Regions from separate parts of the Homo sapiens genome. Here region 2 is linked to region 1. A link means that fine-mapping ties the variant in region 1 to the expression of a gene that starts in the linked region. Tissue or cell type: whole blood. Region 1 holds a variant in brackets; the other region holds the start of a gene. All regions are shown on one strand. Distances are from middle to middle.

What was found. PIP is the estimated chance that this variant, and not a neighbour inherited with it, causes the effect.
Region 2: TLR8 starts here. The variant in region 1 is fine-mapped to the expression of TLR8 in whole blood (TOPMed, PIP above 0.99).

The regions. Positions count from the first base shown.
Region 1 is chrX:13,488,214-13,493,366 of GRCh38, forward strand. No RefSeq gene overlaps it. Among named protein-coding and RNA genes, the nearest start is that of EGFL6, 79 kb to the right of the region's middle. The variant T/G (reference allele first, on the strand shown) is at 3,077.
Region 2 is chrX:12,904,032-12,909,184 of GRCh38, forward strand. TLR8 (toll like receptor 8) reads left to right here and starts at 2,589. Exons shown (of 2, transcript NM_138636.5): 1 at 2,589-2,678. The coding sequence starts at 2,676. It overlaps TLR8-AS1 (TLR8 antisense RNA 1), which reads right to left. Exons shown (of 5, transcript NR_030727.1): 3 at 4,185-4,302; 4 at 2,159-2,220.

The DNA.
Region 1 (5,153 bases):
GGAAAATGGAATGGGGAGAGACAGGATCAACCAGTAACGGGTGTGTCATCTCAAACTGGAGTGTGTGTCCATTGTCAACCCCAAGAAACCCAGAAAAACAAAATCTTTTTCCCCAGGTGGTGAGAGTGTCAACTGCATATGAGAGGGAAGGGTGCCCTCTGCTGTCATCTGTGATTTTTGGTTTTTAATTTCAAAGGAAACGTTCCAGCTCCATGTAAATCAGACTTAAACATTTTTGCCAGGCACGGTGGCTCAGGCCTGTAATCCCAGCACTTAGGGAGGCTGAGGCGGGCAAATCACAAGGTCGGGAGTTCAAGACCAGCCTGGCCAATATGGTGAAACCCCATCTCTACTAAAAATACAAAAATTAGCTGGGCATGGTTGTGGGCACCTGTAATCCCAGCTACTTGGGAGGCTGAGGAAGGAGAATCGCTTGAACCCGGGAGGCAGAGGTTGCAGTTAGCCAAGATTGTGCCACTGTACTCCAGCCTGGGCGACAGAGCGAGACTCCATCTCCAAACAAACAAACAAAAAACAAAAAAGGAAACATTTTACACATTAAATAGGGAAGCCAAACTTGGGATTTTGACCGTCTTAACTAGGCTGGGTTCTGTGTCGGATGAGAGAGACTTGAGGGATAGCACAGGCAGCAATCACAATTCCATTTCAGATGTCCTGCTGAGAGAAAATTGTGGTTTGGAAGAGGGCCTGTGAGCTTTATATATTCAGGACAATTTGCTTAGAAATAAAACGACTTCTTGGGAGCAGGGTTCTCCTTGGGTGGCAGCATACTTGGACAGCATCTCCATTTGTTTCCCTGTCCTTTCCCAGTAAACCAATTTGGGTTCATTATTAGATTCCTGAGTTTGTTTCTTTGGGAAAGAAAAATAAAATACAGTTCTCACTTAGGGAGATGGAAGGCAATGGCTTTGCATGAAGATACGAATTTAAAACAAATAAATACAAGTGTTCAACTCTGATGAAAGATGAGTTGTATGATTTAATGTGCTTTCCTAGGGACATGTAAATTAACTGAGATATAAAATAATGAATCTGCACATCTGCCTTAGAGTTCATCCAAATGCAATCTACAAGGCAAACTTAATCACGGTTATAATTAATACTTTGCAAATGGAAATGACTGGAAATGAAAGGCCGCAAACAACATCGATATTAATGCTTCAGTATTTGTTCTCTCCCTAGTTTTTACTTTCAAAAGTGTTTTTATCATCTTCTACAAAAGTCATACCTTGTACTTTATAAGGCATTTTGTTATATAGCCTCTTTATAGCTGAATTCATCCCATTATCAAAGGGTCATAGTTGGATTACCTACCTACTTAGATGTTTCTAAACATTTCTGATTTCATTTTGCATTCTAGCAACCGGCTGACTCCACCCGAACTCGGGACTCATGACTCAACCAGTCCTTTGGCCCCCACCCAGAGGCAGGCTTAGCTCACAAGGACTATTTTCCACACCCCTATGATTTTATCATTAACTAATCAGCAGCACCCATTCCCCAGCCCTCTGCCCACCAAATTATTCATAAAAACGCTACCATCTGAATTCTTGGGGAGGCTGATTTAAATAATAACTCCAATCCTTCTGCTTCGCTAGCTCTGCATTAATTAAACACTTTGCTGAAAAAAAAAATCTGGTTTCAAACATCTATCACTTGAACCCTTTTGGATTTAAGTAACGGAACCCAACTTGACCAAGGGAGGATTTATCTGCCTATGTTAATCAACATTAAGGTCAGAAGTGCAGCTAGATCTCAGAGAGGACAGGAATCAAGAGGCTAAATTGCATCAAAGTTTTCTCCATCTTTCATCAGTGCTAATTTCATTCTCTTTTCTCTTGAGATTGGCTTTTCCTATGAGAAAGAAACCATGGCTGCTGGCCACTTTTGGGTTCATATTTCCCCACCTCCATCTTCCAAAAGAAAAAAGGATGCCTTCTCTTAAATCCTATGTTTTAAATCCCAAGGAAAGTTTCCGATTGCCTTTGCCTAGGTTATGAGTTCATATATGTGGCCAGGGTGGATGGGGTACTAAGATGGACAATTAGAAGAAAGTAGACCTGTATAGACAAAATAATAGAACTTTCTTTCATGGGGCTTTTCTTGTGTGTCAGGCACTGTGGTAAGCATTTTTTCATTTTTTGTACATAATTTCCTTTAATTCCCCAAACAATCCTACAAGAAAAGTGTTATTATTAGATTCTGGAATTGAGATTCAGAGTTTAGCAACTTGTCCAAATTTGCACAGCTGGCAAATTGCAGAACTAAACCCATCCCATTTGTCTGATGATGTATGTTGGTTTCTGCTATAGAAAAAATGATTTCTGGAGTTCTGGTCAAGATTACATGCAACCTATTTGTACGCAAATCCTGAATATAAAAATTCTGTTTTTGAATTGAGGACAAATAAGCTATGATCCATACTTTCTTCAGCATAAGGGCTGAGTTTTGTTCAGTTTTGTTTTCCTTTTAACATCTCATCTAATGCCTTGGACATAGTAGTTGCCAAGTAAAAATGATTTTTAGGGTACAGTGAAAGGCCTTCTAACTACAACTAAAAATGCGGATGTAAGAAAAGATTAATAAATTTGACAACATAAAAATTAAAATATTTTTTGCACAGCAAAAAATGATGTAAAGAAAATCAAAAGACAAAGCGCAAGAAGAAGCTCTTCTTGCCCTATGAGGAGAAGCTTGCCCTGGGAGAAGCAATTTACAACAAATCTTACAGCTAAGGAGCTAAAATTCCTACCATGCAAAGGACTTTTTTAGTTGACTTTTAAAAGGCCAAAAATGCTACAGAAAAATGTGCAAAAGTCCTGAGCAGACAATTCGCAAAAAGAGATGTAAAAATGACTCTTAAACTTACAAAAAGATGCTCAGCTTCATTCATAACAAAAGAAATGCAAACTAAAACTACACTGCGACACCATTCTCAGCTATCAGAGTGGCAACAACTCAAACCTGACAACATGTTCTGTTGTTAAACTGTGGGGAAATAAGCACTCTCATTGCTAGAGGAAATGCAAAACTGTGCAATATCTATGTAGGGATA[T/G]TTGGCAATATCTAACAAAACCACATATCCATTTACCCTTCCACCTAGCAATGCCACTTGTAGAAATTTACACTGCAATACACCTCTAACGATATTAAAATGCATATGCAAAATGTTATTTATTGCAGTAATATTTGTCAAAGCATAGGACATTGGTTAATCAACTATGGTGCATCCACACAGTGGAATACTATGCAGCTAAATTAAAATCACCAATGAAGGGCAGCTAAATTAAAATATGGTATGCCTCCAGATGTGTTACCCTGAAAAAGATACAATATCATCTATATGATATTCTGCCCAAGAATGCATAACATCTTCAGATTTTCATATCTGTGAGTACAGGACCCTCCTTTCCCTGTGGATCCCAAAGCAATACCTGGAGGGCTTAGGGAGGGGCACCTTGTTTGTATAAAAGAGAACCTGCCTGTACTGCAGTCTACCCCATTCTTAATAAAAGAAACTCCAAGCTTCCAGTTGTTCGGGCTAAAAGCTTTTGCTCCTCAAGATTCAATATCTCCTTCTTTTATATTTTTAAAAATTATTTTATTTTTATTTTTCTTCAAGACAGGGGCTAGCTCTGTCACCCAGGCTGGAGTGCAGTGGCATGATCATAGCTCACTGCAACCTTGAACTTCTGGGTTGAAGTGATCCTCCCGCCTCAGCCTTCCTGAGTTGCTGGGACTACAGGCACGTACCACCAAGCCTGGTTAATTTTTAAAAATGTTTTATAGAGATGGGAGTCTCATTATATTGCCCAGGCTGTTCTCGAGCTCCTAGCCTCAAGCAATCCTCCCGCCTTGGCCTCCCAAACTGCTGGGATTACAAGCGTAAACCACCAAGCCCAGCCAGTATTTCCTTCTTGATAAATTGTAAGAAAAATATAGAGGACTTACTCTTTGTATATCAACATTTGTCTCAGAGGCCCTCTGCTCAGGCACCTCAGGTTTTGGGGAAATAGGAAGAGGATCAGAGGATAAGCAGATTAACACCTACCCCAATCCAAATGTTGGGACTGTACAGCTGGTAACGCTTACGAATATGATATCTTAATAAATTATTAGTTTTGAAGCCCACACTAGAAACCCCTCATTCATTTTTGTAGAGCCAGAAGCACCATTAGATAGTGATAGAGCCCATACTTCCCCTCACCTTTCACTCACCAGCACTCAGTCTCATGGCTACACCTAACTGCAAAGGAAGCTGGGAGATGTAGTCTGGTCATGTGTCCAAGAGAGGAAAGGAAATGGTTTGGTGAACAACTAGCCAGTCTCTGCCACTTTGATAGTAGACTACAAAGAATGTCTTCCCTTTCACTAGTATGAATCTATTATTATTAAATATCAAAACTTATTCTTTATATTTTTAAAATTATGATGGTTTTTTAAAAATGTATTAAATGGGTAACCTACATGAAACTCCTAATGGTGCAGAAAACCCATTAAGTAAACTATAGCTGCCAAACTTTGAGTAACATGGCAGAAAAGTCATATCAAGACATTTCTCAGAAATTTTCCTAGGTAATGGTAATTGAGAGACTGTAGATAGCAGGCTGGTTTCTCCATAAGGAGCAAAATTAAGTGTTGCTGAAGCAATTCTGAAGTTCTAGCTGATAATAACTGCACACCAGCTGTTCCCATTTTATAATACTTTTCCATAAAGCCCCATATTTTAGCTTTTGCCTTTTTTTTTTTTTTTTGAGACAGGGTCTCACTGTGTCACCCAGGCTGGAGTGCAGTGGCACTATCTTGGCTCACTGCAACCTCTGCCCCCAGTTTCAAGTGATCCTCCCACCTCAGCCTCCCCGAGCAGCTGGGACTAGGGGCGCATGCCACCACGCCCAGCTAACTTTTCTATTTTTTAGTAGAGAAGGGGTTTCACCATGTTGGCCAGGCTGGTCTCAAACTCCTGACCTCAAGTGATCTGCCCGCCTCAGCCTCCCAAAGTGCTGGGATTACAGGCATGAGCCACCACGCCCGGCCTTAACTTTTGCTTTTTAAAAAATCTTTTTCCCTTATTATGGAATTTGTATCTTTTACCTGTATGGTGGCTCAAAAGTGAGCAAAGTAAAAAGAAG
Region 2 (5,153 bases), 580 kb before region 1:
ACGCTCACTTTGTGCCAGCTACTTTTCTAAGAGTTCCACGATATGAACAATTTAATCCTCAAAGCCAACATCTGAGAAAGATACTACTATTCTTATCCCAATTTGACAGATGAGAAAACTAAGGCTCAGAGAGGCTTGTCTGCTGGTGATTTGTGTGTCTGGGAAGTGCACGTTGTCTGGCAGGCTTGCCTGGCAGAAGCGGTTCATGACAGGTCTTCTCCATTTTGGAATCAAGATCTGTGTCAGCATGGATGGCAAGGGGAAGAGTAAGGAAAGATTGGTCTAGGAGATGCCCAGGAGCTTTTGGCCTCACAGTGCAGGGTGGGGAGAGCAGACCTGGCCACCAAGGACCAGTTTCTGGGCTTGGGCAGAAGCCAATCATCTGGCTACTTTACAAGCAGATGGAGCTTCTTCCTCTCAGTAACCTTCCTGCCCTGGTGTCAATTCCATTTTCATTTTCATCTTTTATGGTACTGGTTGTGTGGAGAAAACTGAAGGCTCATTTGGTATAAGTAAGTAACTCATTTTTATGAGTTTGCTTGACATAGATACTAGACTGTATGTGTGTATATATACATATAAACATGCATATGTACATAAAAAATATATATATATCATATATACATGATGATACACACACACACACACACACACACACACACACATATATATATATACGTATACAAGCATGCTTTACAAGGCCAATTGACTGGTCTACAATTGGCTGACACTTGGTGGCCTAGAAGCCAGGGTATGTGAGTCTCGCTTTTCTAGAAAGCTGACAAACTCTCCAGTTCCAAGGATCCTTGCTCAGTCAACGGCTGGAAGTCATTTTTACTTCGCTGTTTTTTGTTTGTTTGTTTGTTTGTTTTTTTAGACAAAGTCTCATTCTGTCACCCAGGCTAGAGTGCAGTGGCACTATCATGGCTCACTGCAATCTCCACCTCCTGGGCTCAAGCGATCCTCCCACCTCAGCCACCCGAGTAACTGGGACTACAGGTGCACACCACCATGCCTGGCTAATTTTTGTATTTTTTTAGAGACAAGGTTTTGCCATGTTGCCCGGGTTGGTCTCAAACCCCTGAGCACAAGTGATCCTCCTGCCTCGGCCTCTACAAAGTGCTGGAATTACAGGTGTGAGCCACTGCACTCGATCCATTCTTACTTACTTTCTTTACTTTATTTCCAAGCAAATGTTTGGAGGGAAACCAAGAGACTTGGATGCGGCCAGCCGAGGCCTTTGGGTTTACAATCACAAATGTTTTTGGTTTGCCCATGAAGGCCCAGGCTGCACTCTCTGATGTCACAGGAATCACCTCTCAAACCATGCACCAGGTCTTGAATTCCCTTAGGGTGTGATCTTTAGAGGTCCATCTAGGTATACCCACCCAAGCCATTCTTTGACTGCTGACAGGCCTTCCTTCATAACAAGGTGTTCCACAGTCCATTTATATATGGATGTCATCTCTGCCCACCCTGCTGCCAATTTGGTTTTCTCCCACTCCTGGGGTGTAAGGCAAGATGAAACATATCACATCCCGTTCTAAACTTTATTCTTGTGGCCAGGGGTCAGCAAACTTTTTCTGTAAAGGGCCAGATGGCAAATATCTTAGGTTTTACAGGCCAAGAAGCAAATTTGGCATATTATGTAGCTACTTATATAGTAAAATAAAAATTTCCACAATTATGTAATTGATGAAACTCAAAATGTAATAATAATAATCGAAGGCAGTTTTTTTGTAGTATAGGTTTAATAATGAGAAGAATGGAATCATTTTTGGAGGTGCTAACATTCTGCTTGGTTGGAATTTAAAGTTAGTGTTCTGTATCAGCAAATCCATTGCCAATGTTCATCTAAAAATGTTTTCACTTCTGGGCCGGATTTCGTTCAAAGGCTGCAGTTTGCTGACCTCTGCTCTTGGTTACACCTTTTGAGGCCCTTGCTCTCCGAGCATAAAATGGAATCCATTTATCAGACTAAATCGGGAAGATTAAATTTTCCAGCCTCACGAATGCTCAGCCATTGACTCACTCGTTCATACAATGAACACTCATTGAGCTTATACTACATGCCAGGTGCTGGAGGAGGCATGGGGCGCCCAGGAGAAAGATGCTCGCTTTGCGGCCACAGCCCAGTGGGAGGGAGACCCATACCTACCGGTGCTGTCTCAGAAACTTGTGGAACAAAGATGAAGCAATGTTCATGTTATTCGCCTACATCTGTGAATTACACAAGGAAGACGAGTTTGAGAAATCCGAAGTTCAGTACAAATTTATGGTAACTTTTTTAAAAAAGAATACACTGAAGTTTTCTTAGTGAATGGAATAATGTTCCCTTTTTCTCCCCTGTACACACAAATACACAAAAACTAACAAAAATACGTCGTGTGTGTCTGATTTGGGTTGTATTTAAATCATTTCATAAATGACTTTTTCCCATAACTTCAGTTTCAAAGTTTTAAAGCACAGTCAATTAATGATTTGGCAACAGCTAAGAAATCACAAGTTCCCTTCTTTTCATGTAAACTTCTGTAAAACACACGCTACGTTCTGCTGATGGTAAATAGAGCCATTTCAGGAAGTTAGCCAGTTTCTCTTCTCGGCCACCTCCTGCATAGAGGGTACCATTCTGCGCTGCTGCAAGTTACGGAATGAAAAATTAGAACAACAGAAACATGGTAAGCCACTTCTATTTCTTTAGCAAAGCTTTCCAACAGAATATGGGGTTTCTGACCCAGAAATCTGGGTTGGTGGCAAATGGTGTGAGCCTAGAAAGTAATAAATGGGCAAATAAGGATAAAAATTAAAGATCGAAACAACTGTAAATGCAGGTAAAGCGGCTTGCTATGATCTTTAATTTGTGCACACGTTAGTATAAAGGAATTAGAGAGTAAATTTTGAAAATCAAATGCAGTGATGATCTTACTAATTTGGACAGGAAAATAAGAAAATTTCAAGTTAGAAATTGAACTGGAAATATTACTTACTGGCCCTACCAGAGACAATATCCTCTTCCAGAACAACAGGGTTGGAAGAGAAGGTGAGGGAAATATTCTTCCTTTGCTATTTCTGTAGAAAAGGACAAACTCTCTTCCTTCACATACATAGGTCAATTGCTAGATCCTAGTGAAGCCTGAGCTTAACCTACTGTTGGAGGCTTAAAGTTCGACATTAATTGCTACTTTTCTTGGTCAGAGTTTTAAATAATTAGGTTGGTACAAAAAACTGTGATTACTTTTCCACCAACCTAATAACATGCTACAATTTCTGTAATTATTATTTTACACTGTCAAGACATAGCAGGTGGTCCGTTTTTGTTATTGTCAAGAACTGTCAGACTAAAAATGAACTTTACACTTCTTTTTAAATGATACATTTTCTAGAAAATTCAATGAGGTTTAAGAGCAATTGAAAAGTCTGATTTCAAGAGAGTCTCATCCAAAATGTACTATATATTTTTCCCCAAAGTCCTTGGAGTTAATTTTGACAACAATTTAAAGTACACTTAAGTCTTTTGAAGTTAATGGGTCTGCCACCCAGGTTGGAGTGCAGTGGCGTGATCTCAGCTCACTGCAACCTCCGCCTCCCGGGTTCAAGCGATTCTCCTGCCTCAACCTCCCAAGTAGCTGGGACTACAGGTGTGTGCCACCACGCCTGGCTAATTTTTGTATTTTTAGTAGAGACGGGGTTTCTCCATGTTGGCCAGGCTGGTCTCGAACTCCTGACCTCAGGTGATCCGCCTGTCTCAGCCTCCCAAAGTGCTGGGATTACAGGCATGAGCCACCGCGCCCGGCCTGAAGTTAATTTTTATACCCACCTAATGTTCATTATGGATCTTGAAGGTAAATTAATTCTGCACTAAAATTTTACAATGCTTTACAAAATGACTGTAGGTGGCCCATATGGAATTCGGTCAACTGGGCCAATGACACATATGGGATTGCAGTTGAAATTATCCAATTCCTACTTGATATTTGTAAGCTGCTGTGATAGCCAGTATAATTGTACTGTAAGAATGTGGTAAATAGCCGGGGCCCGGTGGCTCACGCCTATAATCCCAGCACTTTGGGAAGCCGACGTGGGCGGATCACTTGAGGTCAGTAGGTAGAGACCAGCCCGGTCAACACGGCAAAACCTCGTCTCTACTAAAAATACAAAAATTAGCCAGGTGTGGTGGTACGCACCTGTAGTCCCAGCTACTCAGGAGGCTGAGGCAGGAGAATCGCTTGAGCCCATGAGGTGGATGTTGCAGTGAGCAAAGATCGCACCATTGTACTCCAGCCTGGGCAACGGAGTAAGACTCTGTTTCAAAACAACAACAACAACAACAACAACAGATTGGTAAATAGAGTAATAATAAAATCAAATTAAACTTGCAAAAAATGGCCACTTTGCTCCCACTGGTGGCCAATGGAGGTCAAGGACCTGGCTGACCTCCTGCCTAAAGGCAGAGGTTGTTAGCCTTCGCAATGGACTCAAATCAGAGGGGGAGCTTTCAAAACTCCTGCTGCCCAGACTGAACCCCAGATCAATGAAACCAAAATCTCTGGATACAGGGCTTGGCATTTGTAGCTTTTAGAGTTCCTAAGTATCTCTACTGTGCAGCCAAAGTTAAGAATCAGTGCCTTAGAACATCAACAGTTTTTTGGTCCTTTTGTTAAAAAGCACAGTCCGTTTTTTTAGGTGGCTAGAAATGCTCCAGGAAGAGCTGAAATGTATTTACCAGCCACCTTGGTTTGATTTTAGAAAGCAAAATAGAAGTTCTAAGTATGCTTTCTCTGAAAAGCTGAGACTGCAGATAAGAGTGAGGGCAGTTGATGGAGTTCATTCTCCTCTTTCAATCACTGCTTCTCATCCTTTCATTATAATAATCTAAGAATCTCAGAGATTATGAAAGAGAAAGCAGTCTTATGGAAGACCCCAGACTCACAGAATATTAGGGTGTGTTTCACAGGGAAGGATGTCATTACCCACAGTTAGTCTTTGAAACGCAGTTGGACATTATTTGTAAGTGCATCATAGTGTCGCCTCCAGGTTCCATTGAGGGGAACGTCATTCCAATGCAACATCTCTGAGTTCATCTGGGTTATTAAATGGGGTTGAGGGATTTGTTATTTTTAAATTAGTAGCCCCAATTTAGGACTACTCAAGAC